4 linked regions of the Homo sapiens genome follow. The protein of the gene in region 1 interacts with the protein of each later gene in a biochemical or structural test. Each region holds a gene or a part of one and is shown in the gene's direction. Other genes may lie near its edges. The genes, in order: ARHGEF7, PPM1F, SHANK2 and PPM1E.

What was found.
Region 2: the proteins of ARHGEF7 (region 1) and PPM1F form a complex in vitro, tested with the Homo sapiens proteins (one study listed by BioGRID).
Region 3: the proteins of ARHGEF7 (region 1) and SHANK2 form a complex in vitro, tested with the Homo sapiens proteins (one study listed by BioGRID).
Region 4: the proteins of ARHGEF7 (region 1) and PPM1E form a complex in vitro, tested with the Homo sapiens proteins (one study listed by BioGRID).

The regions. Positions count from the first base shown.
Region 1 is NC_000013.11:111,279,276-111,286,311, forward strand, and holds part of ARHGEF7 (rho guanine nucleotide exchange factor 7), read left to right. Parts: intron 1-996; coding exon 997-1,075; intron 1,076-1,262; coding exon 1,263-1,402; coding exon of another isoform or gene 1,403-1,459; exon of another isoform or gene 1,460-1,849; intron 1,850-3,863; coding exon 3,864-4,088; coding exon of another isoform or gene 4,089-4,124; intron 4,125-5,129; exon of another isoform or gene 5,130-5,551; intron 5,552-6,871; coding exon 6,872-6,965; intron 6,966-7,036. UniProt on the Homo sapiens protein: Acts as a RAC1 guanine nucleotide exchange factor (GEF) and can induce membrane ruffling. Functions in cell migration, attachment and cell spreading. Promotes targeting of RAC1 to focal adhesions. May function as a positive regulator of apoptosis.
Region 2 is NC_000022.11:21,949,815-21,956,720, reverse strand, and holds the start of PPM1F (protein phosphatase 1F), read left to right. Parts: upstream 1-3,872; 5' UTR 3,873-3,929; intron 3,930-6,906. UniProt on the Homo sapiens protein: Dephosphorylates and concomitantly deactivates CaM-kinase II activated upon autophosphorylation, and CaM-kinases IV and I activated upon phosphorylation by CaM-kinase kinase. Promotes apoptosis.
Region 3 is NC_000011.10:71,249,542-71,256,662, reverse strand, and holds the start of SHANK2 (SH3 and multiple ankyrin repeat domains protein 2), read left to right. Parts: upstream 1-4,085; 5' UTR 4,086-4,238; exon of another isoform or gene 4,239-4,362; intron 4,363-4,790; exon of another isoform or gene 4,791-5,249; intron 5,250-7,121. UniProt on the Homo sapiens protein: Seems to be an adapter protein in the postsynaptic density (PSD) of excitatory synapses that interconnects receptors of the postsynaptic membrane including NMDA-type and metabotropic glutamate receptors, and the actin-based cytoskeleton.
Region 4 is NC_000017.11:58,982,854-58,985,715, forward strand, and holds the end of PPM1E (protein phosphatase 1E), read left to right. Parts: 3' UTR 1-64; coding exon of another isoform or gene 65-68; 3' UTR 69-2,326; downstream 2,327-2,862. UniProt on the Homo sapiens protein: Protein phosphatase that inactivates multifunctional CaM kinases such as CAMK4 and CAMK2. Dephosphorylates and inactivates PAK. May play a role in the inhibition of actin fiber stress breakdown and in morphological changes driven by TNK2/CDC42.

The DNA.
Region 1 (7,036 bases):
TCAGCCTGGGCACTGCTGACGTTCTGGACTGGATCGTTCATGGCCAGGGGCTGGGGGTCTCGGTGAGACTGTCCTGGGCACTGTAGGGTATCAGCAGCCTCTCTGGCCCTTACTTGCTGGAGGTCTGAGCCCCTGCCAGGTTGTGGCACTGCCACCCATTCTCTGTGGGGGCACGTTCCCCACACCAGTTGAGCAGCACTCCGTCTGGAGGTGCTTATGTAGAATCCTGCTCCGCAGCTGATGGAGTGCTCCCCAGGCAGCGCTGCCCAGACGCCCACTGCCTCTTCCTGCGGACTTGGTGGGCCACCATGTACTGTGGTTTCTGTCAGCTGTGCCAGGATGTTTTGTGTTCACTTCTGACTTGTTTGTAATGATCACTTTGTACCCCCTTTCTGGTATCTTTCCATTGACATTTCCTGGTGCAGTTACCGATTTCTTCTGTTTTCAGGGAGCACTGGTTTGCCAACCATTTTGTGCATTGTGTGCAGCATTTAGCACAACTACTTATTTTCTGTTTTACAAAGTAGAATGTTATGAAATTCTTGTTCTTGCCTCAATTTCCCACCCTTATTTTGACTTTAAACTTGGAACTTCCTCTGCATTTCTTTACGAGGAAAATACATGGTTCTTTTCTGCAAAAACATCATTTAAAACAACTGTTATACACGGTAGTTTTTTAAAAATCATAATGTGTGATGTCTTTTGTCCTGGTGTCTATGTTTAGTAGCAGCTCATCAGATACAGTGTGTGTTTGGGCTTGTCACTCTGTCCCTTGTCGCCAGTTGAGTTTCTTGCTTACAGTACAGTATTATAATTTATTATTTGAGATAAAAATTTTTGTATTATACACACATCTGCTACAAATGAGCTTTTTTTGGTTCACAAACACAGTTCCTCCACCAATTCTAAAATCATTTAATATTGACTTTAATAATGGTACCTTTTTCTAGAAAAGCACTAATTGTTTTTTTTTTTGTGGGGGGGGGTCTTTTTTAGGGAAAGCTTCCAACGACAGGAATGACAATCACAAAGCTTGAGGACAGTGAAAATCATAGAAATGCATTTGAAATATCAGGTGATAGGCACAAGCTGTGTGAGTGCTGTGTCTCGGGGAGGAGAGGCAGCTTGTCCCCGCGTGCAGATTCTTGCTTGCGTATTTCAGAAGGTGGTGTTTAAGCGCTGAGTGGAATTCTGGGGGGTGTGCACGCACGTGCTTTTTACCTGTGTTTCCACTCGGCCTATTTTTTCCTTCTCTCCTATAGGGAGCATGATTGAGCGGATATTAGTGTCGTGCAACAACCAGCAGGATCTGCAGGAATGGGTGGAGCACCTACAGAAGCAAACGAAGGTCACGTCTGTGGGAAACCCCACCATAAAGCCTCATTCAGTGCCATCTCATACCGTAAGGACTTGGTGCTTCTCCTCCTTCCAGACTCCAGGCGTGGCATCCCGTGGCTGAGCTGTCAGCAAGTGATCAGTTGCTTTAAAACCTAATCAATATTTGGATAAAAAGTGCAAAACACTTGCTTCACATTTCTCTGCAGATCTTTGGCCCTCTTCGTGCAGTAGTGAATTGTTTTCCAATGAGTGTTCTCGAGAAACAACCCTGAATTGTGCCTCCTCACGCACAGTTCAGAGGTGCTTGGGTGGGAAGCTGCTTCTGCTCCGTGTGGCCCTAGAAGACTGATTTAGGGGAGTTTTACACTCAACTATAGATGATTTTTCTGAGAATTTTAACTGTTTATTATGCTTCATTTAAGAAAACAAAAAATAAATGATTATGATGATGAAAAGGGCCAGACTCATGTTGAAGGCATTAAAAGAATTTATGACACACTGTTGATTTTAAGAAATTGAGGTGTCTTTTACTTAGAAAAGCTCAACAAGTCTTTGGATATTTAGAGACTTTTTTTTTTTTTTTTTTTTTTTTTTTTACAACTTTTCAGAATAGATGAACACTGAAGCTTCAGTGTTTAAACCTCTCCTGGTGTTTTGTGCTCAAGAAGTTGGTATCGGGTTGTTTTAACAGTCGTCATCTTTATCAAGTAATACGGAAAAACTGGGCAGAGCTTTTAAAGAATGAATGACGATGACACAGGCGTTTTCTGCTTACAGATTTCCTCACATCCTTATTAGGCTATTAGGATCAGCTCTGTCGTGTGCTCAGTTTTCATGTTTTCTTCTTCATGTGAAGGTTGTAGCTCAAGAAGGATTGCTGTACTCTGATATTCTCATCAGAGTTTCAGAGTCCATCTGATTTCTTTCAGCAGTAAAGATTGTAACTACTCATTGGCTTTTAGCTAGCATTTCATTTTTAATGGCTCTACCATTTTAAAATTCTCCATTCTTTCATGGAGATCAGTTTATCCCAGGGACGTGTGTGTACACGTGTGTTTATAAAGAACAGTGGATGAGCTGCTTCACTCAGGTTTTCAACAGCAGCCTGAAACTCTACTTCATACAATTTTATATCAAGTCAGCTTTTCTCTGTGGCCAGACCCTCCGTCTTAGTGTTTCTTTCACTGGTGGCTGGGAAGGCATCCCTTCAGCGGGGAAGGCACTGTGCCTCATGTTTAAAATGTTCTGCATTCTCCTACAGAGTTTCTTGTGTGGGATGATGTATTCTGTGATCCAACTCTGACCAGCTGAAATCATTTTCTAATTTTAGCATAAAGCATACTTCCTTTGACTTTTTCAAGAAAGGAGAAACAAAACCAGACACTGCTTTGACGTTGTTGCTAGAAGGGATGTCTTACATAATTTTATCCATCTATACATTATTTCCTATGAAAAGATGACCTTACAGTGGCTTCATAGCATGACCTGCATCTCACACAATTCCCTCCCCCATGCAGGGACTAGAATGTGATCGTTGCAGGAAGTTGATGGCTTCTATTCTTGAAATTGTGGCATTAGCTGCCGTCCCTCTCAGCCTGTGTTTTGAAGGTCGCGCACTTCCTCAGAATGCCGGCCCCACTCCGTTTCCAGTTCACAGCGCCACACAGCTTGTTCTCCCATTAAATGCACCTTACTATTGTTGGCTAATTTGAGGTCATTATTGGCTGATTTTGAGAATGACTTATTTAACTTTTCTCATTTAACTGTCATTGTGATGGAATATTTTGGGTTTTCCAGGAATATAAAATGCATTAATGGCACACCGCTCTAAGAAGTTAATTTTTGATTAACTTTGTTTTGATTAAAGTTGAGTTTTCTAAGAACATAATTGGTTTTAATACCAGGGTTTGGCAGTGTTCAGTAAAGATCCAGATGGTAAACGTTCTCTGCTTTACAGGTTCAGGCCTCTTGCAGCTGTACTCTGCCCTTGGAACACAACAGCAGTTTTAGACAGGCACAGGCCTGCCTGTGTGCCAGGAAAACTTTTTTAAAAAACAAAACTAGGCGATCAGGCCTTAGTTTCGCCCAGTACTTTATCACCAGGTGAAGAATAATACGTGGCTGGGGGGGAATCACCTTCCTTCTTACAGCCACATGCCCTGTGTGCTTTTGTGAAATTCTCATCTTTTTACTAGATGAAGTACCTTTTTTCTATAAATGTTACTCCGTAGCTAATAAATGTGGCTAGTGGATGTCTTTTGAGTGCTGGGGCCCCAGCTAGAGCTGCCCCTCCTGTCTGGGGCAGACGCCGTGAGGAGCCCCACGCTCGGCCCAGGTGGCGCGAGCTAGTGTTTGGCCCCAAAAACTGACTGCTGAGAGCCAGAGATACGAATGAAATGATAAATCCTGAGGTTTATTTCACATGGAGTGTTTAAAGAGCAGAAGGAAGTGCGTGATAAGTGCCCTTTCGCGGTGAGCACGCGAGTCTCATGTTCTCTGCCCTTCCCGCTCTGTGCCCTTGGCAGCTCCCCTCCCACCCGGTCACTCCGTCCAGCAAGCACGCAGACAGCAAGCCCGCGCCGCTGACGCCCGCCTACCACACGCTGCCCCACCCCTCCCACCACGGCACCCCGCACACCACCATCAACTGGGGACCCCTGGAGCCTCCGAAAACACCCAAGCCCTGGAGCCTGAGCTGCCTGCGGCCCGCGCCTCCCCTCCGGCCCTCAGCTGCTCTCTGCTACAAGGAGGTGAGGTCCCTTGACCACTCAAACAGCCAGATGACGGTGAGCATGCCTCGGGCCCTGGGTGTGCCCACGTGCTGGGCCTTCTGTGTACAGCAAAATGCACCCTAACTCCTAGAGAACTGAGAAGGGGGGGTCTGCCTTGGTTCTCTGGTTATCTGCTCTGCTGCTGAGAGGCCCGTGGTAACCTGTGTGGGAAGGCGATGTGCAGGGTCCCCCTCCTTTCTGCCATGCACAGGGGGGCCTTTACTGCACTTGCCGGAGGAGTGTGCCGCCAGGGGCCAGGAGCTGGAAAGGCGCTGAGCCCAGGTGGCTTTCACTCCCTGTGTGTGAGGCCATCGCTCAGCATCTGCACGCTGTCTGCTGCGTCTAACGACCCCTCCTCTAGGTTGGGGATCCTGTCCAGGAGCCCTGCATTTTGTCATCCAGAAGCCATTTGAGATGAAGAGAACATTTACTAATACAAATGAAAAACAATCACTTAGGCGGTTTCCCCCTTTGATGCATAAGAAATCATGATGCGGTCTTTGCTTGTCTCTGTTCTCATCCGGCATTTTTATATTTGCTAGGCGCAAATAAAGTACGATTCCAATGAATAAATAGAAGTGTTAACACTTCCTTACACTTTTACCTAAACCAGCTTGGATGAGGAAAGGAAGTGTCTTTAGAAATCTGTTCTGAGAAGTACTTTCACCTGAGGAAGCTGATAATTGAGATGAGAGTTGTTTTCATAAGCAGTTGAGCGTGCATGGTGGTGAGGTATGAGGAGTGGCGGTGAGAGTGTGGGTATCGTGCGCGTCAGTGTGAGCAGCAGTGCCCGTTGGTGGGGTGTGAGTGAGCGTGAGGATGGTGACACGCTCTTGCCTGGCATTGTGCCTCTGTGTCTGGTCAAGGCCACATTTGCCAAGGGAACTGGAGCAGACTTTTTCTACATTCTTGCCGGCAGCCCTGGGGGTTTTAAGGCCCACAGGAAAGTACTGTATGAGAAATTAGGATCTGTGCTTTTCATTTTTTGTTCTGAGTCTTTGTTTTTATGATATCTTTCAGGTAATCATGTGTGCAAGTCAGAATTTCCATTTTCTATCATGGGAAGTTACTTGAAGAATGTTGCTGTTCCTTATTGTATACTTTAGTGTGCACAGTCTAAAGAAAAAGTGAGCTACTACAAGAACTGGTGGAGACTGAATTACTAGGGAAGAAAATTGGGATAAAACTGTTGGGCAAAGAAGTAGAAAGGGCAACGGAAGGGGTATTGAAGTGAAGATAAACAATTTTTTTTGATAAGTCTGGCTGCATTTGCTTTGCCAACTCCACACTGGGAGAGAAGGGCTCACACCGAGCAGCTGCCGTCCAGTGTTGCTGAGCACCGCCCAGCAGTAGCGTGGAGAGTGATCTTGCAGGGTGTGAGAAGAGGACATGGAGGCTCGTGGAGGCCGCTCTGCAGCCCGCTCTGCCTGGCTCTGGCTCAGGTGTGCTGTGTGCTCTGTGACCCTCTGCGCCTGCAGGTGCCCTCGGAGCACGTGAGGGGCGGGCGTTGGCTCTTCAAGGCTCTCCATCTCAATTTGCTTCGAATTAGGGAAGCCATGAGCACATGTGTATAAATGTGTCTTCTGGAACAGATTGCTGCTGCATTTCTAAGAGCTTTCCAATTTTTTATAGAAATACTTTTGTTTAACTTTTTGAAGGCTATTTTAGATTCAGAGTTTGTTACGTGGCTGTATTGGGTGATGCTGGGGTTTGGGCTTCTGGGGTACCTATTACCCAAATAGGAAACATTGTACCCAATGGGTAGCTTTTCAAAACTCACCCCCATCACCTTCCGCCTTTTGGAGTCCCCAGGGTCTGTCATTTCCATGGTCATGTCCATGTGTACCCATTGTTTAGCTCCCAAGAAAAGACTTTTAAAGATAATTTTAAAAACCAAGCTTTGTTTCCTCTGTTTCCAGCCTGGTTCATTCCATAGCACATCTCATCTTCTGAGTCTTGGTCTCGCGTTTAGCATTCGTGATGGTTTATGTCGTTGGGGTGATGCAGAAACCAGCCTTTTTTTGATATCGGTATTTAACACGTGCTTGACAGTTGACACCTTACCTGCTCTGTTGGGACTTGCTTTGCTCACTTTGTTTTTTGCCGTCGTCTTCTGTGCTTGTTTGAAAAGCTGTTTGAAGAGGTAAGGGGTGGGCCATTCCGTTGTGAACACTCTGAGCTGGTGTGCATGTGGCCCCTGCACAGCAGCCCTGGCCGAGCTTGGCTGTGCTCCTGGCACTCAGAGTCAGGTAGCTGAGCACTCGCTCCCTTTTCTTCTCCCTGAAACTTCAAATATTTTCTTAAAGCAATTATTTTTTACTTATCTGTCATTTAATGACAACCTTAGTTTCCTCCTCTCTTTCCAGTTAGCTGTGCCAGGGGATAGGTCTGTCCTAGGGAGCAGCTGCCCCCTCCTCTCCTCCTCCCTCAGGAGCGTGCAGGATGTCTGTGCACACCAGCGCCAGCCTGCCTCCTGGTGACACCTCTCATCACAGGACTAACAGGACCCAAATGACACGAGGGGTTTTATTAGAATTAAAAAAAAAAAATTAGCCAATGACTAATACTGAAAATGCCCTATTGATTTTTAAAAATTAACGTTCAGAAGCTGGTAAAGAAAAATCAAAGTAGGAAAAGGCGAGAAGCTCTTATCAGTGGCTATAATAATTTGGGGTTTTATACCTTTACAGCAGCCTTTCTGATATGCCAGTGAAAATGATTGGCTTTAGAGTATGTTAGCATTTTCTTTTGTCTTTCCCTAGGATCTTAGTAAGAGCCCTAAGACCATGAAAAAGCTGCTGCCCAAGCGCAAACCTGAACGGAAGCCTTCAGATGAGGAGTTCGCGTCCCGGAAAAGTGAGTACCTGCGGTCCGTGTGGTGGAGGACGTGGCCTCCTGGTCACGTAGGCCATGGCTTTCCTGGGATA
Region 2 (6,906 bases), on another chromosome or scaffold:
GGCAGGAGAGGAGTCTAGTGGAGCAGGTGGGGCTGGGAGACCCCCTCCCCGGATCTGGCTTATGAATCCCCTTGGTCTTCGCTGCAGCCCCCTGCTCAGGGCCACGCTCTTGACCCCACACTTCTCCGTCCCCTGCTCCCTGCTCCCATCTCTGAGAAGCCCTGTACATGGTGCCCGTGTGCGTCTGGCAGCTTCCCAGGACCTGCTGCAATTCCCATTCTCACAACAAGCCCTTATGGTCTTAGAGGCAGCTGGGTGCCCCATGGAACCCATTCACATGCCAGGTTTAGAAAATACCCTGTAGGCCAGACTGCCGTGTGGTGCCAGGTGCTGGTGGCAGCTGCCCTCTGACCTCAGTGCCTTCTTGTGCTCCCCTCCCCAGCCACCCGAGGAGAGACACCTGTGCGGGATCCACTGTGTGTTGGAAACTCCCTCCACACTCCGCCCGTGCCTCATTGAGTGATGACGGGAGCTCAGCAAAACAGCTTTCCAGACTGTTCAGTGGGACCTTTCTTTGAGGGGCAGGTCAGGAATGTTTCGGACTCAGACCCGCCCCCGCCCCAACTCAGTAGTAGATTCCCAGGCTGCACCAGGACTTATATGAGAGCTCCTGTAAGGAAACCCAGAGCCCACCAAGCATACCCCCCCTGGACCCCCTTCCTGGAGGCCCTCACAGGTTAACACGGGGGTTCCCTGGAACACAGTTTGGAGAGCTACTCGAAGCTGAATGAAAATACAGAGACATGGGGAACCACATAGAGGGTCCTGGGATGTGTCTCAGAAGCACAGGCTTCAGGAAGGAGGGGGTGCTCTCAGAGCTTCTGCCCCCTCCCACCCACTCTGGTCCCATTCTGGGGCCCTAGCAAGGCCACACCTGTTAGGTCCCCAGTGCGGGGCTGTGACTCTGCTCTTCCACCCACAGGGCCCAGTGGACCTGGAGCCTTCTCCGCAGAAGGTTTCAAGACCTCCAGGACCCTTAGGTTATAGGGCTCATTCAGGCTTGGAGGAGCAGAGACGGTTCCTAGGTCTTAAACCCAGACCACCCAGTCCTTCCTTACTATGCTTCTGCACTGCGCTTTCAGCCACAGGCAGGGCTAATCACAAAGTGTTCCTTTATTTTCCTCTGCAGTTGTCCCTTGTGTGTGACCCTCCTTCAAGGCCCTTGGCTTCCGCAGCTTGATTCTGCACTCCGAGTCCATTCACCTTCTCCCATCCAATAGCATCCAACCCCGCTGCTACTGCTGCCAACCTGGCCTTGGGAGCAATGAGGACAAGGAAGGGACAAGACCCCTTTTAGGCCAGAACTGCCTTCAGATCAGCCACGCTCCATGGGACTGTACCTCTGCCCTGGAGGCTGGAGAGGTCAGTGGCTGCAGACTGTCTCAAGGAGCCCCTGGCCCTGCCCACCTAGCCAGGGGTGCAGCCTTGCCAGAGAAGCAGAGAAGCGTCTGTGGCTGGGTGGGTGATATTGAAAGATTCCTTTCACCAGGGTGGAAGCCAGGATCTGAGGCGTGATGGAATGTGGACAGTGAGGCAGTGACAGCGCCACAAGGCAGGAGTCATCTCCAGGCACGTCCTTGGCCTGGAGCCCATAGGGACAAGCTCCTGGTGGTGCCTCACTTTGCCATCCTCTCTAAGCCGCAGACCTTGAATGGAATCAGTGCTCAAGAGTCTAATTGGGCCCACTCTGAGGATGCCTGCGGGAATATCAGCTTTTACCGCACCACACTGCACTTTACAGTGTGGGAGGGCCTGCCCCACGCACCACCTCACCTGTACTGCGGTTCTCAAACTTCACCCTACAGCCATTCTGTTGTAGGTGATCTCAGGGGCAGTTTGAGAAACAGTGGCTCAGGGTCTCACAGCAGCCCTCTGAGATAGGTTGGTTGCTATTGTCCCGATTTTTTCTCATCAAGAAACTGAGGCTCAGGTGAGCTAAGGAATGTGCCCAGGGCCACTGTTTATAAGAAGTAGCCTCAAGCCTTGCTCATGGTTACTGCCCTGACAGGGATCTAGGAAAGAGTGAGCAGGAGAATGGGATGAGGCAGGACCCTCCGCCCCAGCCCTGCTTTCTCTGCCCAGACACCTCCTGCCTTGCAGACCCAACCCCACCCCAGATGGTTTCCTTTCCAGTCACCCAGCTGCTAGTTCTCCAGGTTCCTGGTCTCACTCCAGGTTCCTCCTGTTAGAGAAGCATCCCAGAGACATTCATTCCTGGCAAGGACACAGGCCTGCGGACCTGAAGGTCAGGTGGGCAGAGCCACATAAGATCTGGTGCCCCATCCTCCATTTAAAAAATTATACTTTCCAACGGCATTGGTATAAAGGTGAATATATTAATATCATATATTAAAACATTTTCTTTGACATAAAGGTTTCTTTCTTCTGCCTTTAAAATAAAATATTTTGGCCAGGTGTAATGGTTCACACCTATAATCCCAGCACTTGGGAAGGCTGAGGCAGGAGGATCACTTGAGCCCAAGAGTTCAAGACCAGCCTGGGCAACATAGAGACCCTGTCTCTACAAATTTTTTTTAATCAGCTGGGCGTGGTGGTGCTTGCCTGTGTTCCCAGACACTAGGAAGGCTGAGGCAGGAGGGGAGGGTCACTTGAGCCCAGGAGTTTGAGGCTGCAGTGAGCTGTGATCATGCCACTGCACTCCAGTGTGGGCACCAGAGAAGGAGCTTGTCTCTAAAAAGAGAGAAAAAGAATATTTTCAAGAGCCTCTGTGTTGGCAGAAAAATGGCCCTTCAGAGATGTTCATGTCCTATACCTGTGCCTGTGTTAGATTACATGGCAGACCCGGCATAGTGGCTCACGCCTGTACTGTAATCCCAGCACTTTGGGAGGCCGAGGCAGGCAGATCATTTGAGGTCAGGAGTTTGAGACCAGCCTGACCAACATGGTGAAACCCCATCTCTACTAAAAATACAAAAAAAATTAGCCGGGCATGGTGGTGCGTGCCTGCAGTCCCAGCTACTCGGGAGGCTGAGGCAGGAAAATCGCTTGAACCAGGGAGGCAGAGGTTGCAGTGAGTCGAGGTCATGCCACTGCAGTACAGCCTGGGTGACAGGGTGAGACTCCGTGTCAAAAAAAAATAATAATAATAATAAGGGGCAAAGGGGAATTAAGGTTGCTAATCAACTGATTTAGAGAGATGATGCTGGACTATCTGGGTGGGCCCAATGGCATCAGGAGGGTCTTTAGAAGTAGCAGAAGGAAGCAGAGGAGGGAACCAGAGGTGGCAGTGTGAGAAAGGCTCAACTGGCCATTGCTGGCTTCGAGGCTGTAGGAAGGGGCCACGAGCCAAGGTATGCAGGGAGCCCTTAGGAGCTGGAAAAGGCAGGGGAACAGTTTCTCCCCTAGAATCCTCAGAAAGGAACGCATTCTGGCGATCCCTGGATCTTCGCCCACTGAGGCTAAGTGGACTTCTGACCTCCAGAACGGAAAGATAACAAAAGCCTCAACGTTTGTGGAAACAAACAACTCATAATGAGCCTGGGACTGTGCCTCCTTCCCGGACGGATGAGCCTGCCTGGGCAGTCTGGGTTTGCATCCCTGCTCTGTCACTTACCAGCTATTGACGGCAGAAGTTGCTTAATTTCTGGGCGCTGTGACCTAGGGATTGCTTTCCCCATCCAGCCGCCCACCCAAAGCTGCAGAAGAGAAGCAAGAGGCTGGTGACTGGGGCGGCTCCGGAGCCCAGGTGGAGCCGCAGTTCGCCTACCACTAAAGGGCCGCAGTCACCGTCCACGTAGCCGCCAGGGGGCAGCAGAGGTCCGGCCCCGCCAGCCTGGAGGCCCGACTGCGCCTGCGCGGCGCCCGCGGCGCCCGCGGCGGCCAGGGACGGGAAGTGGGCGGGGCCGGCCGGCAGCAGCTTGCGGGACACGGAGCCGCGAGGAGACAGCTGAGGCCCGCGGAGACCAGGGGTGAGGAGGCCGGGGGGGACGGGATTAGAGGGCTGACGGGGCTGGGACGAGGGTCAGGCGAGCGCCCAAGGCGCACAGGGGTGAAATGGGACCGAGGAACCGGAGGGGTGGAATCAGAGGGCTGGGGAGGCAAGGAGGCCGAGACGAGGCTCACATGGGTGCACCGAAAGGGTGCGGGGGTGCAGTGCGGGGGGCCGAGGAGCAAGAGGGGCCGCTGCGGACATGAGGAACCCGAGGCTGGGAGTTGGGGGGCTGGGGAGCCAAGGGGGCAGAACTGGGGGGCAGGCGGGGGTGTGGCCGAGCCGAGGGCCTGGTAGGGACCGAGGGCTATGAGGCAGAATCGGGTGCTGAGGGGGACGCGCCCCATTTTCCGAGATTTGGCCTCTCCCCACCCCCCAGGAGCCTCTGGGCCGGCACGTTGCCCCATATCCCCCCAGTCCCTGCACCTTCAGGGGCCCAGTCTGCCTGATGGCCCCCGGCTCCGCGGCCTCCCAAGCGTCCGTGAAGCGAGCGTCAGCTGCACAAGTGCTCGGGCTGCAGCTGCTTCAGCCACAGGTCTGTGAGCCAGAGCCTCAGGCGCGGAGGCCGGGCACATTGCCGCTGGGTTCGGTCAGGCAAGCCCCTGAACCTGTCTGTACAACAGGAAGAACTGGCTCCGGCTGCAGGGATTTCGGCACAGCGCTTGACACACAGTGAGGCCCACTGCATGGTGGCGGGCTCCTTCGAAGCCTTCCACCCTGCGGGACAGAGTCACACATGTCGTGGTGGCATTCCCCGGGACAAGTTCTCTGGGCCCAGCTGAGCTCTCACCACGGGGGATAGAAAGTGGGGCCGGCCAGCACTCTGAGGCCATCTCCAGTCTCTTCTGTTGTCAAATTTCGCTCTTTTCCTCCTGCACGCGAGGTGGAAATACCAAAGGCATTGGGCATCCAGAGACCTTGATTGAGTTCGCTTTGCCCTTTCACCTGTGTGAGACCTTAAATGGGTGCTTGCCCTCCTATAACCTATTTCTTCATCTGCAGTGTAGCCTGACAGTATGTACTTCTCAGCGTAGTTGTGAGAGGTAAACAAAACGAATGCATTTCTGAAAGCCATGAACCTCTACACAAGTTCATTTGTGGAATTCCTTTAAGATACCCCCTGAAGGCCGGGCGCGGTGGCTCATACCTGTAATCCCAGCACTTTGGGAGGCCGAGGCAGGCATATCACCTGAGGTCAAGAGTTCCAGACCAGCATGGCAAAATCCCATCTCTACTAAAAATACAAAAATTAGCCGCGCGTGGTGGCAGGTGCCTGTAATCCTAGCTACTCAGGAGGCTGAGGCAGGAGAATTGCTTGAACCTGGGAGGCGAAGGTTGCAGTGAGCTGAGATCCCACCATTGCACTCCAGCCTGGGCAACAAGAGCGAAACTCCCTCTCAAAAAAAAAAAAAAAAAAAAAAAGGATACCATCTGACCTGAAGCCAACCGAGTCTTTTAAGACCTGGCGCTGCTGCCCACTGCACCCTTCAGAGTGGTGTAGCTTCCTCAGCCCATGCCACCCGCCAGTCACTCTTCCCTCTGCCATCACACTTACCACCTGCTGTACACAAAGGGCCATCGTGGGCTCCCTGACTACAGGGAGCTTACAGTCTATCAAGAAAGTCAGGCCTGTAGAAAGAAATGGTCATTGCACAGCAATGTGACTATGCTTAATGCCATGGAACTGTACGCTTAGAAATGGTTAAAAGGATACATAGTGTGTATATTTTACAACAATAAAAAAAATTTATATATGTAGAAAAAAAATCTAGGATTTACATCTAACTATTATTAGTATTAGTAGTTATGAATAAAGAAATAAGAATCTCTTTTGGTAGAAAAAGGTTGGCCAGGCGTGGTGTCTCATACCTGTAATCACAGCACTTTGGGAGGCTGAGGCGGGCAGATCACCTGAGGTCAGGAGTTCGAGACCAGCCTGGCCAACATGGTGAAACCCCATCTCTACTAAAAATACAAAAAAATTAGCCAGGCGTGGTTGTGGGTGCCTGTAATCCCAGCTACTAGGGAGGCTTAGGCAGGAGAATCACTTGAACCTGAGAGGCGGAGGTTGCCGTGAGCCAAGATTGCGCCACTGCACTCCGGCCTGGGTGACAGAGCAAGACTCTGTCTCAAAAAAAACAAAAACAAAAAAAAACAGTTAACATGAATGATGCTTTTGTTACACTATAGTGGTGCAGTTCCCTTTTCTAAGGATTGCTGGGTTTTTTTCATTACCTTGGTTCTGCAGTTAAGCAAGACTCAACAAGTATTTTTTCTATGTCCCCTAAAAAACTGCAGTTGTTAAACCCTGCATTCGTTAAGCTTAGGAGTCAAAACTAATGCACTAGAGGAAAATAAATATTTTAAATTAAAAAAAAAAAAACTTTTTACAAGTCAGATGTGAGCAAAAGTGCCATAGAGACATGAAAGAGAGCATGCTGGATCCAAAGATGGGGAGATTTCAGCAAAGCCTCAAAGGATCTGAGAGATCTCGGGAGGCAAAATGGAAGGAGGGCACCACAAAACAAGGAGGGGAGGGGCTGCCCTAGGGTGGGGGGTACACAGAAATGGAAGGAGGAGCCATGAGAGAGCCAAAGCCCAGAGCTGGTGGCCAATGAGGGACAGGTCAGGGATAGAAGGAGTCAGAATGACTTCCCAGGTGTCATCACAGTTAAGGCCCAGGTTCCCCAGCATGAACCCCACCCTGGGACTTTGGGCAAGTTCCTTAGCTCTTCTGCTACAGCCTGCCCTGTGAAGTGGGGATAACCACAAGAGGTTGTTGGGAGGCTAAAAGCCATCCCAGGAAGAGTGCTCAGAGCAGGGGCGGATGGCAGCTGGCAGCACCGTCAGCCACACCCCTGCAGCTGCCCCCCGATGAGTTTGCTTTGCCATTTCTCACCTATGTGGGACCTTAAATAGGTTCTAGGAGGGTGAGCACCCATTTGGTGTGCAGTGGG
Region 3 (7,121 bases), on another chromosome or scaffold:
GGCCGGATCGTGAGATAGAAAAATAGTAATATACCGGGGTCAGTACTATCTGCAGTTTCGGGCATCCACTGGGGGGTCTTCGAAGTATCCCCTGTAATAAGGGTTGGGGGGGCACTGTATTATTTTGGGTTTCCCCTCAATGCTTTCCCTGAAACAAGGACTTGGATGCAGGCTCCTCCATTTGAGAGTTGACTCCAGGGAGCAGGAGTGAGGGAGCAGCGGAAGGGAGATGCAGAAGGAGGCCATCTCCAAATAAAGGTATTTTGTCCCGGACCCTGCTGTAAGCAACGGAGGCTCCAAAGGCCCTTCCTAGAAGCCAGAGAATGTGCCCCAGCAGGACTGTTCACCTGCTGGAGGGAGGCAGAGCAGCAACCTCTCCCAGCCTCCCAGCTCTGCTTCCACAAGGACTGGAAGTGGCCCCTCGGGGAATGAACTCCTCCATCCTACAGGATGCCCTGCACCCCCAAGGGAGGCCTGGGAGAAGGTGGATGACACCCTTGTTCCGGACGTGGGCCTCAAGGGAAGAGCTCATGGCCTGGCTGGGAAGCCTGGCAGACCCTGTCCCGCAGCTTTCCCTCCTGCCTGCTGCTCCCCACATCCTCCCGCTCCAGTGCAGCAGGAAAAGCTTCAGACCATCCCCTCTCATCAGCTCAGATTCCAGGAGAAACAAACTCTCCCTCCAATCTCCCAGGTGGCAGCCAAGATGCTTACGTTCAAAGTCCCAGGAGGCTTTTCTCAGCAAATCCATCCACATAAGCTCATGGAAAATTAATGGAGAGGAATAAAAATCCACAGTAAGCTAGAGGCGAGACGTGAGAGGCACTTCTGCACAGGAGTGAGAGGACATGTAAAATCTGGGAATCCTTACAGCATCAGGTTTATGTGATTGAATTAGAAGTTGTCACAAAATTGTGGAGAAATGAGTGAATTTTCCAGTATTTGACATGGGCGGGAACAGGACGGAAGTGGACCTCTTGCTGTAGTGGAAAACAAGTAGGAAAAAAATGGCAAAAGCACGGGAGAATCTGGCAGGGATGAGGGGATGTGGCAGACTTGCTGGCCAGAGCACCTACCTTTACTTGGGCATACCTGCCTTTAACTGGCTTCACCTGTGTGTGCTTGCCTTTACCTGGCTTCACCTGTGCACACCTGCCTGTGTGGTTCTGACCTCACGCCCTTGAGTGAGTCTCCTCCCCTCCTTGGACCTCAGCTTCCCACCTGTTAAATAACAGGGTTGCCTTGGGTTAGGCCACTCCCACTCGGGCTGTCTAAGAATCATTCTCTGAAGATGTGCTGGCCTCCAACTATTAATACATTAAGCCCCAAACCCAGGAGCTTCTCTGGGAGAAAGGGACTGCTGCTGAAGGCAGTGAGCATCTGGGTTAATCTAAGCCACAAAATATTTATAATGTTTTCCCCAGGACCAAAAAGGTGGCTATATCTCACATCCCTGATGGTATGGTGTCCCAGTTTCCAGTTCTCTATAAAACAGTTACTCTTCCCAGAAAGTCCTAGCGTGCTCAGGACCACACAGCGTGTACTCCACAGATGTGGCTGATGGTTTCATGGTTCAGGTTGGACAAGAAAAAAAGACAAGATGACCAGATGGAAAAGCTTACTCCTTTCTGCAAAACCTGGTGAATCCTGGAAGGCAGCTTCCAGAAACAAAACCGGAGGGTTCTGAAACCAGGAAGCCAGGAGGGTCATGTCTTCTTTTCCTAAACTGAACCTAAAACAAGGCACTTGGTGGTGTGTGTGGCTATGGGCCCCCCAGAAATTAGAATGCCAAAAGAGGTCCTACTTCAAATGAGCGGCGGGGGGTAGGTGTTCCCCTCAACCTGAGATGCCCGCTCAGAGCGTTAAGATGTGAATAAAGGCACTGTGGCAGCATTATCTGACCCTGAACCTTTTCATAAGAGCCTTTTTTTTTGGCTGTCAATACTTTTAGTTGACACATAATTGTACGTATTTATGGGTCCAGTGTGAGATGTTGATACACGTATGCAATGTGTAATGATCAAATTAGGGAAATTAGTGTATCCATCACCTGTAACCTTGATTTTCTTTGTTTTGGGATCATAAGAGATTTTTACAGACTTGAAGGATGTTGCTTCATCGGAGCACAAGGCTGAACTGGATATCTCTAAACAGACACAAAGAAACTGGGGCGTAAGCAGGATGCTGTCCTTAAAATGCCGAATGTCGGGGCTCTCACACAGCGCTCTTGTTGGCTAACAGATCAGAAAGACTGGAGGGGGATGGCCCAAGGGGTGTCCACTTGGGTGGAAGGCTGGCAGAGGCCTGCGTCCCTAGGGAAGTATTTCTTGGAGATAGCATAATGGCATCGGTCTTAAACCTTGCATGGAGATAGCCGAAAAATGTTCACAATTGAACTGTGACCAGCTGCCTGGTCTATCTGCAGCAGTGGTTCTAGAAACCTAGGAAGGGGTGTTCCAGGGGTGGGAATCTGGTGAGAGGAGGGAAATATCCTGAGGATAGGTCTTTGAGCTGGGTTTGCAGGGTAAATACACCACTTTATTCAGATGACTTGCCTTCTTTGGTGGGGAGGGTACTGATGGACTGTTATGGAAAGGTAGAGCCCCCACCCCCACTCCCTGCAACCCAGGTCTTGCATCTGCCACCGGCCAACCCAAAGAACATCCGATTGTCCTGCTCACACCTCTCCCAGGCACCCCAGCTTCCATGCCAAACAAAGGATGCCTGCAGGATCCTGTCAGGGCGTCCTTCTTCCTGTTTTGGGGATTATTATTTTTTGATTGATTGACTCCTTTATTCATTCAACAAATATTTTATCAAGTGTATGCTTAAGGAAGCAGCGACGAGAAAGACATTTACATAAGGCAGCTGCCCTCAAGGAGTTACAATATTTATTCCATGTGTGTCCTGAAATATTCAGGCCCCAAACACAACTTTTTTTTTTTTAACCTAAGTGCTTTTAAAGACTTCTTTGAAATGTGGGACAATTATGCAAGCTGAAAAAAAAAAGTATCTAGAGCAAATATTTAACTTTGCCTTTGGTATGTTGAAGTCACCAGCCCATGCAAACCTCTCAGGCATGTCCTGTAAGATAGACTGACTTACACACACACACACACACACACTCACTCTATGTAGGGGGCACAGTTAGGGGTTTGCATAATGCCGGGCTCCAGGGTTCTGGAGACAGTTCTACTCCACAGCTTGGACTCTGATCCCCACCCACACCTTCCAGAATACTGGAAAACTCAGAACACAGAGACCTCAAGAGCTTACTCAGAAACACGCAGCTCGTACTGGGGGAGACTCCCAGTGAATGATTAAGGCCTTGAGAAAATCTATCAGCCGATGGCTCACACGGCGGCCACAGCTCCAAGCTCAGGACCCGCCCCTTTGGGCTTCCGCAAACCTAGCAATCCGGAGTCCTGGATAATAACAGGATTCCTGGAGTCTCCGGAGGGTGCCTTTGGCCTCTGGGATTCACCCGAGCCGTTGGCTTTTGCTCCCCCCACCCCACCCCCTGGCTTTTCTTGGCTTGGAGGGCAGCTGGCGGAGATACCGTTGTGCACCCCTGGGCGGAAGGCGCCCCAGAACTGGTGGCCTGGGCAGCAGACGCCGGCGTATCACCCGGGTACAAAGTTTTCGTTTGCTCTGCAAACGTTTTGATGTGCAGGCAGCCTCTATTTCCAAATCCTATTATTATAAATACTCTGTGGCGGGAGCCAGCTGCGTTCGGGATAACCGTGCAGACCGAACCGGACTTTACAAAAATCAGGGACTTTCTCGTCCGCCGGCTTTGGCCAGGGAGGGGGAGGTCCGTGAGCCACGCAGCCCGGGGCGGGGCAGAGGCGGCCAGGGCGCCCCGCGGTCTCCCGGGGTTGCCACAACAGACCCCACGCGCACGCCCGAGCCGCAGCCGCGGGCGGGAGCGGGGTCGGGGCGGGGGACTGAGGTCCGCGGCGTGGGCGGGGGTGGGGGTCCAGGTCGGGTCGCCCGCGGGTCCTGGGCCGCACGCGTCCTTTCGGCGGCGAGAGGGCCCCTCCCCCACCCTCGCCGGAGCCAGCTCCCGCGCCGGGCGGGGCCGGGTCCTTCCCCACCCCCTGCACCTGAGCCGCGGCGGCGGCTCCTGAGCTCCGGCGGGGCTGGGCGCGGCGCCGCTCGGGTTCCCGCGGCCGATCCAGGTGTGCGCGGACGCTGGCGCTCCCGGGGGGCTCGGACCCGCCCCCGACTCGCCGAGCCAGGTGAGGCGGCGGCCGGGGACGCAGGGCGCGGGCCGGGGAGGACGGGAGGTGGCCCTTGGGCACCCGATCCTGCTCACTGACGGCATTTTGGGGGCATCTCGATTCCGGGAGCACCAACTACCGGGTAAGCGCAGTCCTGGACCCAGAGAGGCTGGAGAGGTGGGCGCTGGGGGGAGTGAGCCGCGTGTCCAGGTGGGGGTCGATTTTCCGTAGAGAGCCCTTCCCCCTGCATGCCTTTCTTCCCGGGCAGGGGCCGGTGTCGAAAGCTTTGGAAGCGGCGTGGGGGCAGAGCGCAGGAAGGAGCCCCCGCTTTATCTCCTGCGCGCATGGACCACGTAGTCTCTGGCGCGTCCTGCCCCTTCCTCTGGAACAGCGCGTGTGGCGCGACCTCCCCCGCTCTCCCGGGGTCTCCTTGCCCCGGGTCACCGCCCGCCAGCCCTAGGACCCGGGCCAGCGAGCCCAGCGGAGGAGCCGGCGCGGGGCCGCCAGGTGGCGCGCGGGGGCGGAGACCCGAACCGTGGCCGCCAGGTCCCCCGAGACCCCGCTGCGGTCACCCTGGCCCTGCACGCAGAGCTCCCATCCAGGCGCGCGCGGCGGCAGCAGCAGCTGTCGCGGAGAGGCCGGGGCCGGCGCGCCTGGTGCGGGCCCGGGGGTGGCGGGTCGGGCGCCCAGGTCCCGGGGGTCGCGCTGAGCCACAGCCGGGTGCCCGACCCCGGCCCGCCGTGCTCACCAGCTGGGATAGGGAGACCCGGCGGGCGCAGCCCGGCCGCCACCGTCCGTGAATTATGCAGGAAGCTGGCACCGGCGCGCTCGAGTTGATCAAGTTTCCCTGGCAACTTTCGCCCGGGCATCCCTCCTCCCCGGCGGCCGGGCAGCTCCGCCCGCCCAGCCCGCGGCCCAGGCGCCTCCACCGGGTGGCCCCGGCCCCGGGCGCCAGGCGCGGGGACCGCTCCCAGAGACGCCGACAGCGCACTCGTCACTTGGGCTGGAGCCGCCGGACTGAGCCAGCAGGTGCGACCACCGCAGCGGGCCTCGCCGCCCGGGTTCGGGGGGATGCGGGGGCTGGGGTGGACCTCGCCGCCAGGGTTCTGGGGCTTGGCGTGGGGGTGCAGCGCGGCGCCCTCCAGGCGGGTCTGCGTGCGGACACCCTGCTCGAGGTGGGTGGGCGCGTGGGCGAGGCTTGCCTTTCCGTGGGGCTGGAGCACCCAGAGGGAGAAAGGGTGGTGCAGGTGACCGTGGGTTTTCGCAGCCGATCTTTTAAAGGGGCTCGGGGCGCCTGGAACTGAGAAGGCGCTCGAGCCAGGCAGGTGAGGGGTGGGTGGTGGGGGGGTCAGGCGAAAGTACGTAAGGCTCTCGGGGGCTGGCAGCTGCTGGCAGGGGCCTGGGCGTCCTCAGAGGCCATCCGAAAATAAAGTGGTTTTCGGGTGGAAATTCGAGGTTGTAAATTGGATAGTTGAGTGACCTCTTTTTCGTTTGAAACTCAAGTTCGAACGTTAATGAGGCCAATCAGCTAATTAAGCTTCCAGATCCAGAGAGGTAATTTCGGAAGTCCCCCGGTGGGGGAGGGCGATTTGATCTCTATCTGGGATGTGGGCCTCGGTTTTGCCGACCCAGCCACAAGGGAAGTTCTGCGCCCCTGGAAAAGGACCTGGCAGATTCAGCCTTAACCCCGGTGCCCTGCGGTCCGCATCACATAGTTAGTGACGCCCTTCTGTGCACTAGGAACCGAGCCTGGTGCCCCAGAGGGTTCAGCAGGTCCAGAACAGCCCCGGGCCGATTGCTTTTGGAGTTTTCCAACTACTTGTGGGTTGGAAACAAGGTTGAGGGTCCTAATAGGGTTGAGCCTGTGGGGGTGGAGTGAGGAGAGCGAGCTCGGCCCCCATCTGGGTTCAGTGTTAATTCTGAGGGAAAGCCGTCGTGTCTGCTCTAAGAGGGGGATTGGTAGGTGGGAGCTGTGGGTTTCTATGCCGGATGTCACTGTCCTCTGAGGGGGCTTGAGGGAGACTCTTGTCCTGATAGGAATCTGGGTGTCCCAGTAGTGCCTGAATGATTCAGCTCCTGGGAAGCACTGTCTATATAAGGCCTCTGATTCCATTATTACACCCAGGAATTCCTTGTTTTCCTGGAAGGAAGAATTGGGTGGAAAGCTTGGTGCTTCTTTGGGTCCCTTTGGAAGGAGGTTGGAATTCAAGTATCAAAGGTAACTCTTTACAAGTAGGTGATTTCACCTATAAAGATGATCCCAGAGGGCTCGGTTGACAGCACTTGGCTGCTTTTAACAAATTAGATTCCCCCCCACCCCCGGGGAGGGGGGCGGTCTGTTGGGGGGATCTTTCTGTGTACTGTCTCCAAGTACAGTCTGCTATAGAAAACCGTATTCCTATTTGGGTGAGTTTCAAGATTTTCATTCATTCATTTCTTCATTCAGGTGCTTAGGGTTGTATGCAGGGCCATGCTGGCTTCTAGGGGTCTTGGTCTAGGCCTGGGCTTGGGGAGCCAGGTGATATCAGATGTGAGTGCTGCCCAGAGGAAGGTAAAGGGATTCTGAGACCGCATTGCATTTTATATTTCATTAGTGACGAGGAAAAGGATGGGAGAGAAAAACGGGCCGGGAATTAACCAGTATACAGAAACACACTCCTAAAAATGGCTCTTTATAGGAAGGCAGTGCTTTAGCATACTTGCCTTACTTCCAAATACGTAACAGAGTTGCAGACGAGAGAGTTCTGGGATCCCCGTCAGTCCCGATGAGGACTTTTCTAAAGTGGGGCTCAGCTTGGGAGTTGCTGCAGGGCCTGAGGTTGTGCCTCCTACTCTGAAAGAGTTCTGGGCCTGGACACCTGAGGTCTTACCTGCCTGCAATTCCAGCCTCCTGCTTTGTAA
Region 4 (2,862 bases), on another chromosome or scaffold:
TCTGTCACCTTCTGAAGCCTAGATCTTGTTAACCCATCAGGTGCAGTGTCAGTTTCAAATCAAATTATCTAAGAAAACAAGAAAACAAAGGCAGCAGACTATTGGTACACATTATAGTCCAAAGTGCTTAGCGAAGTAAAAAAAAAAGCTTTTTAAAATTTCTATTGTTGTCTATTGGTAATGTTTTTGATCAGAATAAAGAGGGTAAAGGGAAAAAGTTACTACACATGCTAGGCTTTCTCAGTGGGGAAAAAAATGGCTGGATAGAACTGGGACAAACACAGACCCATCTTTAGGGGTCTGGATTTTGTAGGTCCGACTACACAGCAGTGTTAACTCATTTCTCATGCCATTAGCTCTCTACAAAATAAAGCAAAGTAGTTCTAGTGTGGTCGTTATAAACCAATATTGTGAAAAATAGCAACTATTCATTTGTTCACAACATGCGTATTTATAGAGTAGTTAGGTACCATTTGTAAGGTAAATCCTTTAAAATTCTATAATACATACTAAAATAGTGGTTATTGGTCTGATATATGCTGCTCTTGGTTCTATAAACTAGATAAAAGCAGTGCTTTGTGAAATGCAGTGTTCTCTCTTAACGCCACTGGTGATAGGAAGTAGTTCCCTTCAGTTCAAATCCTGTGCCCTTATTTGCTGCTTGCTGACGTAAGCAATAAGTAACCCTCTAACTAATGGTATCTACATATTTCTGTAACTTGTATTTAATGATGGTGTACCTGGTGATTGTAAAAATATTAGACAGATATAAAAGTATCTATATAATATCTATAAACTGTTAATGCTGAGGTATAGTCTGTGAATTATGTGTTTTGTATTTTTATTCATTGTGTAATTTAGTGGTGGTGAAAGTTCTACACTCAATCCTTAAAGAGTGGCAGTATCCCTTTTTCAATTTAACATGGTCTGCATCAATCTGTTTGCCTGCTAAACAAGTTAGAATAGGAAATAGTAAAATAAATCCAAACAAGAGTGTAATATTGGTTAGGGAAACAAACTTCAGGTCACCAACTGAAGTCATTACAAACTCCTTGTACATTCACTGTGAGTTTCAAAGGGAGTCAGTCCCTAATTTACAGGTTTCCTTTGTTCACTTTCTAGATGTGTACTTTTGAGGGACATGAGGTTAGGCAACATTACAGCAACACACACTGGGGCTATTAATCCCATTTAGGTCTGTACTAAAGAGGATGGGTAGAAACACATATGTATATACCTTTTCTTTACCTAGAAGTGCCATCCATTGTCCTTGAATTATTATGATTAAAGTTACTGTTGCATTTAGGAGGCTCCTTGAAAGTAACACCTTTTCCAAGGACAATGGCAACAATGTCAATGTCAACACTGAGTCTAATTTTGACCACATTTATAGTGGTATAGTGTCAATACTGCATTTTCATGACAACCACACTCCACTGTTGAAACACTGTGCCAGTGAGAAGTGCAACATCCAGTGGGCAGATGAAAATGATGCATGGCCAAGTTCAGTGTTTACAGATAAAACTGCTGTGGTTCAAGTGCTTCCTTCCCCATCAAATCCTTGATAAGGCTTTGTGGGAAAATGATCTAAATTATTGTTTTAATTTTTAAACCTAATTTATTCACTCAGTGAACATTCTTACCTAAGCAAGGCTATAAAAGGGAATACTACAGTTTTGTCCACACTTTAATTTGAGACCATTTTTCTTTGAATCGTAAGTTAGCAAAAGAAATTTTTTTCACCTTTGAAAATCACGTGATGTTAAAGGACAAATGCCCACTCTTCTATTCTGATCTGCAAATAGCTTAAATGTCTCTTGCAAAACAAAGTAAGATACCACCAGTATTACAACACAATGATTTTCCAGACAAATGGTATGGTGTTGAAAAATAACTGTTACTTCTTAAAGCAGCATTTTATCTTCTATTTTGAAGACTATTTATTGTAATAATTAGAAAACATGAAATAGGGAACTCCAGACTGACACAGCAGTTGTTTTTGAAAAGGAAATAAACTTTGATGAATTAGATAATCCAGATACATCATTGTAAACTCTTACTCTAGGTGCTCTTTGGTGAGAGACAGGCTTTGTTCTCTTGTTCATAACATTTCTCTGCAAAGAATTCTCTATGGAGTGAAGCGAATGAAGTGAATAATTTCTTACCAAATAAATTTATCAATTTACAAATCTGCTCTACATCTCACTTTTGAGTTCAGTTGTAGTCATGAGTGATCCTTCATATTTTATTAAAAGTGTTCATTCAGGTAAGGTGTATGTTGAAATTTTGCCAATTATCTTAATAAAACCTGGCAATTTAAAAACCACTAGTCATTTGTCTTTTTATTTAAAGGAAAGGTAAGTTATTTACTGTTTAAATTTGTGCAGATTTCTTCAGAACTGGAAAATAAAATCCTGAGATGGACGTTAAGTTTGGAAGCTTGGAACATTTAAAAAGAAGATTTGCTAAATGCTGCTGTAACATTATTTTACCCCAGAAGAGAGGTATTTAGCCTTATACATGTTCTCTTCATTAGCTGAACTGCGAGGAGAGGGAGTGGTGTTATAATCCTAAAAGAAAAGAGGAACCCGACCTGCCAAGGACTAAGCGGTGGTCATCAAATCTCCCAACTACTTCATTCTTAGAACTCTGCATCTAACCAAGCTTTCCCCTTTCGCTTAGCCTCTTTGAGTTTCAAGCTAGAAGAAAGTAAGGAAATCATCAGATGAGCTGTGGTGGAAAGCCTCCCAAGGACTGCTGATAAGTGAGTAAAAGGAGACAGAGACAAAAAGGACAATGTGGGGGAGGGAAGTCACTTACGACACCTGCATCTGAAGGGAGGGAACTGACCTTCCAAACGAG